Linked DNA regions of Homo sapiens: region 1 is linked to region 2. Evidence: fine-mapped expression QTL. A gene starts in region 2. The other region holds a variant in brackets. All regions are shown on one strand. Distances are between the middles of the regions.

The links. PIP is the estimated chance that this variant, and not a neighbour inherited with it, causes the effect.
Region 1: its variant is fine-mapped to the expression of NDOR1 in whole blood (TOPMed, PIP above 0.99).

Annotation. Positions count from the first base shown.
Region 1 is chr9:137,236,243-137,239,137 of GRCh38, reverse strand. It overlaps SLC34A3 (solute carrier family 34 member 3), which reads right to left. Exons shown (of 13, transcript NM_001177316.2): 13 at 2,583-2,895. The coding sequence ends at 2,722. Among named protein-coding and RNA genes, the nearest start is that of TUBB4B, 3.6 kb to the left of the region's middle. RefSeq lists silencers at 2,196-2,425, 2,446-2,775. The variant G/A (reference allele first, on the strand shown) is at 1,511.
Region 2 is chr9:137,204,222-137,207,116 of GRCh38, reverse strand. NDOR1 (NADPH dependent diflavin oxidoreductase 1) reads right to left here and starts at 1,417. Exons shown (of 14, transcript NM_014434.4): 1 at 1,205-1,417; 2 at 808-885. The coding sequence starts at 1,339. It overlaps TMEM203 (transmembrane protein 203), which reads left to right and starts at 1,469. Exons shown (of 1, transcript NM_053045.2): 1 at 1,469-2,895. The coding sequence starts at 1,703. The coding sequence ends at 2,113. RefSeq lists a silencer at 1,454-1,713.

The DNA of each region.
Region 1 (2,895 bases), 32 kb before region 2:
GCATGCGCGGGGATCAGCATTGTCCTTCTGGGGCGAGGGCCTGCAGCTGTGCTCACTCCTCGGGGGTCTGTTGCCAGTTTGCCATCCTGTCCAGGAGGGTGGCCTCCCCCACAGATCAGCCCAGGAAGGCGGGCCTGGCTTCCAGTGACCACTGTGACACAGGCCTTGACCCTCAGAGGGACTGGGGTCCTGCAGCGGCCTGAGGGGTGCACAGGTTGCTGCCAGCCATCCCAGGTTTCTCCTAGTGCCCAGGGCATCCTGGGGTCCTGCAGAGTAGCTCAGCTGTCCAGGCAGTAGTCAGGGACATGTTGGAGTCTCATAACATTGAGTTGTCACAAAGGGGAGAAGGAGAAGCTCTGTTTTTTTCCTCAGTGAACTGTGCAGAGCCCAACTGAGGCTGCTCTTTGAGGTGTGTGGCATTCCTGCACCTTGTCAGAGTCTCCCAACCCCTCTCCAGTAAAGGCCCCTGCTTCCTGTGACCAGTGCCCACAGGGCTGGGAGGTCAGTGTGCCACCCGTTTCACAGGTGTCACCTGCCCAGGTGAGAGCCCCAGAGCTCGCCATGGCACCAGCTTGCCTACTTTGCCCTTGCATTGCCCTGGTGAGGTGGACACTGGCTGGGGACAAGACAGCAGTAGACACCCTGAAGCCTGGGCCTGAGCCCAACAAGGACAGCAGCCACCCCTGTTGCACAAAACTGGTTGGGGAAGGCTCTGTAGGTCCCACCCTGAGCCAAGGTGCCCTGCTGCAGGATGGAGAGGCGGGATAGTGTGGGGCAGGAGGACCAACTCCTGGGCCTGGGGTCTGTGGCCAGGCAGGATGTGGTCCAAGGAGGGCCAGAAGGGCAGGGAAGCGGGGCAGGCGTGGCTGTGGGAGTGCTGGGCACCTGCCCTCCTCCTCCTGCAGCTGTCGGAGGATCCACAACGAAGGCTCTGTTTACTGGTGGCCATGGTCCCAGTGGGAGGGTGTGTTACCGCCAGGCAGGGACAGCAGGCAGACAGTATTGGCTGCCTTAAAGGACCAGACGCCCAGCCTTTGTGGGAGGCCTCACCTGCCCTGGAAGGACAGGTGCATGGGGTGCTTCCTCCCTCTCTCCACAAGGGCCTCACTGATCCCCCCCCAAAGGACAGGGGAGCTCCCCGGCCCCTCAGGCTCCCCAGGGAGCTAGCCAGGCTTGTCCCCTACAGGGGTGCCAGACGGTTCTATGAGGCTGATGTCAGGTCCACAGGGGCGTCCTAGAATCACAGGGCTGTGAGAACCAAAGCTCTAGCTGCTGGGGGTCCCATTCTCACTGGAGCCCACCCCTGAGGCACCCCTGGCTCCCAGAGCAGGTGGTCACCTCCCTCGGTAGGTGAAACCAAGGCCCAGGAGGCCTAAGAGTTTGAGGGGTGGCTGGGGCAGAGGACCCAGGGAAGACTGGGGGCCAAGGGCACAGAGGGTCTGGGGGTCATGAGCAGGGGCAAAGGGAAACTGAGGGCAGAAAAGAACAGAGCCACAGAGGAGAAGTGGCC[G/A]TGGGGCCCCCTCAGGCCTCATCTTCCTGAGTGGCTGCACCTCTATCCCCTAGTGGGGTCTGACCAGGCAATCCTGGGAGGCTCTGGGAAGAGAGCTGCCCCCCAACAGGGCTGCAGTTCTGGAAGGGAGAACGTGACTGGCCACAGCAGCAGACTCAAATGAGCAAACTAGACCTGTCCCTGATGGGACCGTCCCCTCACCCACCCGTCTCTGTGTGCCTGAATGAATGCTCCAGTTCTGGGGTAACCCAAGGCTTTCTTCCCTTGGCGGGAGTGGGGGTTGGGTTAGGGCTGTGGGCAGCTCTGGGCTAGAGGTGGCAGGAGCCCCCCCTCAACTTCCTAGGTGTCCAGTTACCCATTGGCTGGCAGACAAGCCTTCCTGTGTGGAAACCCGACCACACAGCAGAGGGAGGGCCCCCTGGCCCCCAAGTCCTCCCCATGGGTGCTGTCCGCCCTCCTGGGCCCACCCCACGGACAGGCCTTCCCGGGACAGGGTCTCATTCTCCGTGGCAGTGGGAGGCCTCAGTGTGCCCCAGCCTGGCGGGTGAGACTGGCTTCCTGGTGGGTTCTGGGAGCTGAGCACCTGCCGTGGCCCAGCCCTGCAGAGAAGTGTCCCCGAGGGGCCCAGCCCAGGACCGGCTGAGAGACACAGAGGGCAGACAGACAGGTGGTGCCTCTGGGACCACCTGGCCCTCCAAGCCGTCAGGGTCCCTTCTCACACCCCACGCACCTGATGGGACTCCAGTCCCCACCCCAACCATGACATCCGCCGGGGCAGAGGAGCTCCGGGATCCCCCACACCCTGCACCACCGGCCCTGCTCCCTGCTGGCTGGGCTCTCCCCTGCGCCCCCAGGAGGGGCCCCAGCTCCCACTGTGGGAAGTCCCCGCCCCCCCAGGCCCGCCATTCCTTGGGAGCTTCTGTCCCCAGCGGCTGCCGTGAGAAACACACCTTGGGGTGGGCGGGCTCCTGTGCCTGAGCCCCAGGCCCCGGAGTGTCCACCAGGAGGCAGCATCGGGCTGCTTCCCCCACCTGCGCAGGCGGCCCCTGTCTAGGGGAGTGAGGACCGCCACCCCAGATAACAGCCTGGTTTATTTGCACAGAAGGGGAAGCAGGTGACCGGAGGTCAGCTGCCGCGGGGACCCCCCCTCCAGGGCCCTCCAGAGCCCTCCCAGCCGGGGAGGGTGGGGCGGTCTGCTCAGCAACTGCCCGTCACAACTGCTGGGAGGCCAAGATCTCAGGGTTCTCGTAGCAGTAGGCCTCTTTGGTGGTGGCCTTCGGGGGGCTGCAGACGTTGCAGGGGCAGCAGCGGGTCACCAGGCGGTCCCAGGGCTCCAGAGAATGGAGCCAGACGGGGAGCCAGGCCCAGGAGCGCAGGCGGACAGG
Region 2 (2,895 bases):
TTCCGACAACCCTTCATTTCAAGCCCATCTGCCTTGCTGTGGTTACTCAGGCTCTTTGGACTGGGCCTGGCTTCCTGCCTCTCTTCTCCTCCCCTCTTGCCCCAGTGTACTCCTCAGCTTGGCCACCCTGAGCTGCTTTCCACTTTTCACACAAACCAAATCATCTTTTTCCTCTGCGCTGACTGCTCCTTCTTCCTCGGTGCCTGACTAGCCCTCACGCATCCTTCCGTGACTCAGCTTACACTCTTTTCTTCCAGAAACCTCTGCCTGGGCCCCAAGGTTGGGTGAGATAAGGCTCGATGCCCCTTATCAGTGCTCCTGTGACATATGCTACTTTCCCCAGCAGCAGGTGTTTGCTGGCACTGTCATTGCCCGTTAGCTGCTTCTGCTACAGTGTGAACTCTGCCAGGATGGAAATATGGCTGCTGGGTTCACAGCTGGATCCCCAGCACCAGACTGTGCCAAGAATAGAATATGTGCTTAAAAGATGGTCAGAGAATTCAGCAACGTTCCCTGAGGGTCATACAGTCTAGAAATACACACAAGACCCAGACTAGATGCACATATAGATAGCCCTGGAAAAATAAGAAAGGTTAAAACGGATAATAAGGCTATTTGGTGGCTACGACGAGTTTATTAGAGAGGGCAACCGGAGCCCCCAGCCCCACTCACGGACGTTCTCTCAAATCCACCTCTGAAGGTGCATGAGATAAAGGAGAGCTATTTACTGCACCTAGACGCCAGGCAATGAAAACGGGGTGAGGGTCGAGGGCAGGGATCTGAGGAGCCACATCAGGCCAGCCTTACCTTCATGTTGTCAGGGGGGTCTCCTTGGCCTGTAGTTGCACAAACAAATATCACCAGGGGCTCGTTAATCAGATTCACCTCAACAAAAAGACACACACACGTAAGACCTCCGGCTGTAAGGACCGGGCGTCCTTCCCAAAACTTGACCCCCTTCTCCTTTACTCAGGCTGACAGGGCAGAGGGATTTATGTGAGCAGCCAGACCGTCTTCTCTTTCAGGTTCCAACCTCCTCCAGGTGCTAAACTGAACTCCCCTTCCCAAACCTCCTTCCCTAAATCCGCCATAAGGGAAAGACCCGCTCTCAGAGAAAATGCGACGCCTTTTGGGTCGATGACCCCGCGAGGCGGGCACGCCAGGCCTGCTCGTCCCCCACGCCGAGGCCCTAGCGAGCCCTCACCACCGGGTAGGAGTCCAGGGCCTGCACCCGGCAGCCAAGCCGCCGGCGCCGGGCCTCGCGACCCAGTCTCTCCGACACATCCTGAGCCGTGCCTGTCTGGCTGCCGAAGAGCACCAGAAGCTGCGGGCTCGGCATCGGGGTGCGCCCGGTGGTCTGGTCTGAGACTAAAAACTAGAAGGCAGTTCCCGCCGGCCGGGTTGCAGGGACCGCTCCGCCTTCCGCCTTCCGCCGTCGACCGGAAGTGACGCACTAGGGACGCGCCCTGTGGGGGCATGGCGTCCGATCGAGGCGGGCGTTCACGGGCGGCCAGGGTTGAGTCCCGGGTCGGGGCCGGGGGATTGCCGGCGCATCAGGGCCGAGGGCTGGGGCTGGCGGGGCCGCTCGCTGCCTCTCGCTCGCAGCAGCGGCGGCAGGCGCGGGCGAGGGCCACGGGGAGAGGAGACGCAGCCCCGCGGGTGGCACGCTCGGCCGGGCCCCGGCCCGCGCTCAACGGGCGCGATGCTCTTCTCGCTCCGGGAGCTGGTGCAGTGGCTAGGCTTCGCCACCTTCGAGATCTTCGTGCACCTGCTGGCCCTGTTGGTGTTCTCTGTGCTGCTGGCACTGCGTGTGGATGGCCTGGTCCCGGGCCTCTCCTGGTGGAACGTGTTCGTGCCTTTCTTCGCCGCTGACGGGCTCAGCACCTACTTCACCACCATCGTGTCCGTGCGCCTCTTCCAGGATGGAGAGAAGCGGCTGGCGGTGCTCCGCCTTTTCTGGGTACTTACGGTCCTGAGTCTCAAGTTCGTCTTCGAGATGCTGTTGTGCCAGAAGCTGGCGGAGCAGACTCGGGAGCTCTGGTTCGGCCTCATTACGTCCCCGCTCTTCATTCTCCTGCAGCTGCTCATGATCCGCGCCTGTCGGGTCAACTAGCCTCACCGAGGTGCCGGAGAGGGAGCGCTGGACAACTAGAATGTTGACCTCGAGCCGAGGCCCTACTTGCAGCGCACCGGAGGAGAGGCTCTCTAGTCTGAAGGCACCGCCGGCTTGCGCCGAGCTGAGTGCCGGGTTTCCCTATTCCAATCCTGTTTGAAATGGTTTCTTCAGCAGGGCTTAAAAGAGCAGCCTTCATCCTGAAAATGTATTTCCTTTTGTTTAATGCTTTGAGTAGATAATCCTGAATTGAGGTCATGAGGAGGCCCCCCAGGCCAGACAGTCCTGAACCCCTCTGACACTTGGAAACTGAATATAAGTAAAATGTCCAGGTGGACTCTGAGTATTTCCTGTGGATCCTGGGAAAGTACTGTTGCACAAAGGCTGCAAAGCTGGACTCAGGAATGTCCTCCAACCAGCAGCGCTGACCTAAGAGCTCCCTGTGCCGTCTATCCAGACCAGACTTCGGTAGATGCCTTTGTTAGATCTATCACATGTAAACGAGCTTGTATCTCCTTCCCTGTGCCACGAGAGAGATTGGCTTTTTATTCCAGTCTAGGCAGAGACAGAAGAATGTTGAATAAGAGCACGATTAGAGTCCTGTCTGGTTATCTGTTGCCCAAGAAAAGAACTCTGCTGTCCAGGCACTGCTTGGCTTACTATCCCAGCAAAGACTGCAGTTTTGTGGACTTTTGACCACCTTGGGCTGGCACTCTTAGCACACCTGAGACAGATTTAAGCCTCCCTAAGAGACTGAAGAGAGGAACAGGTGTCAGATACTC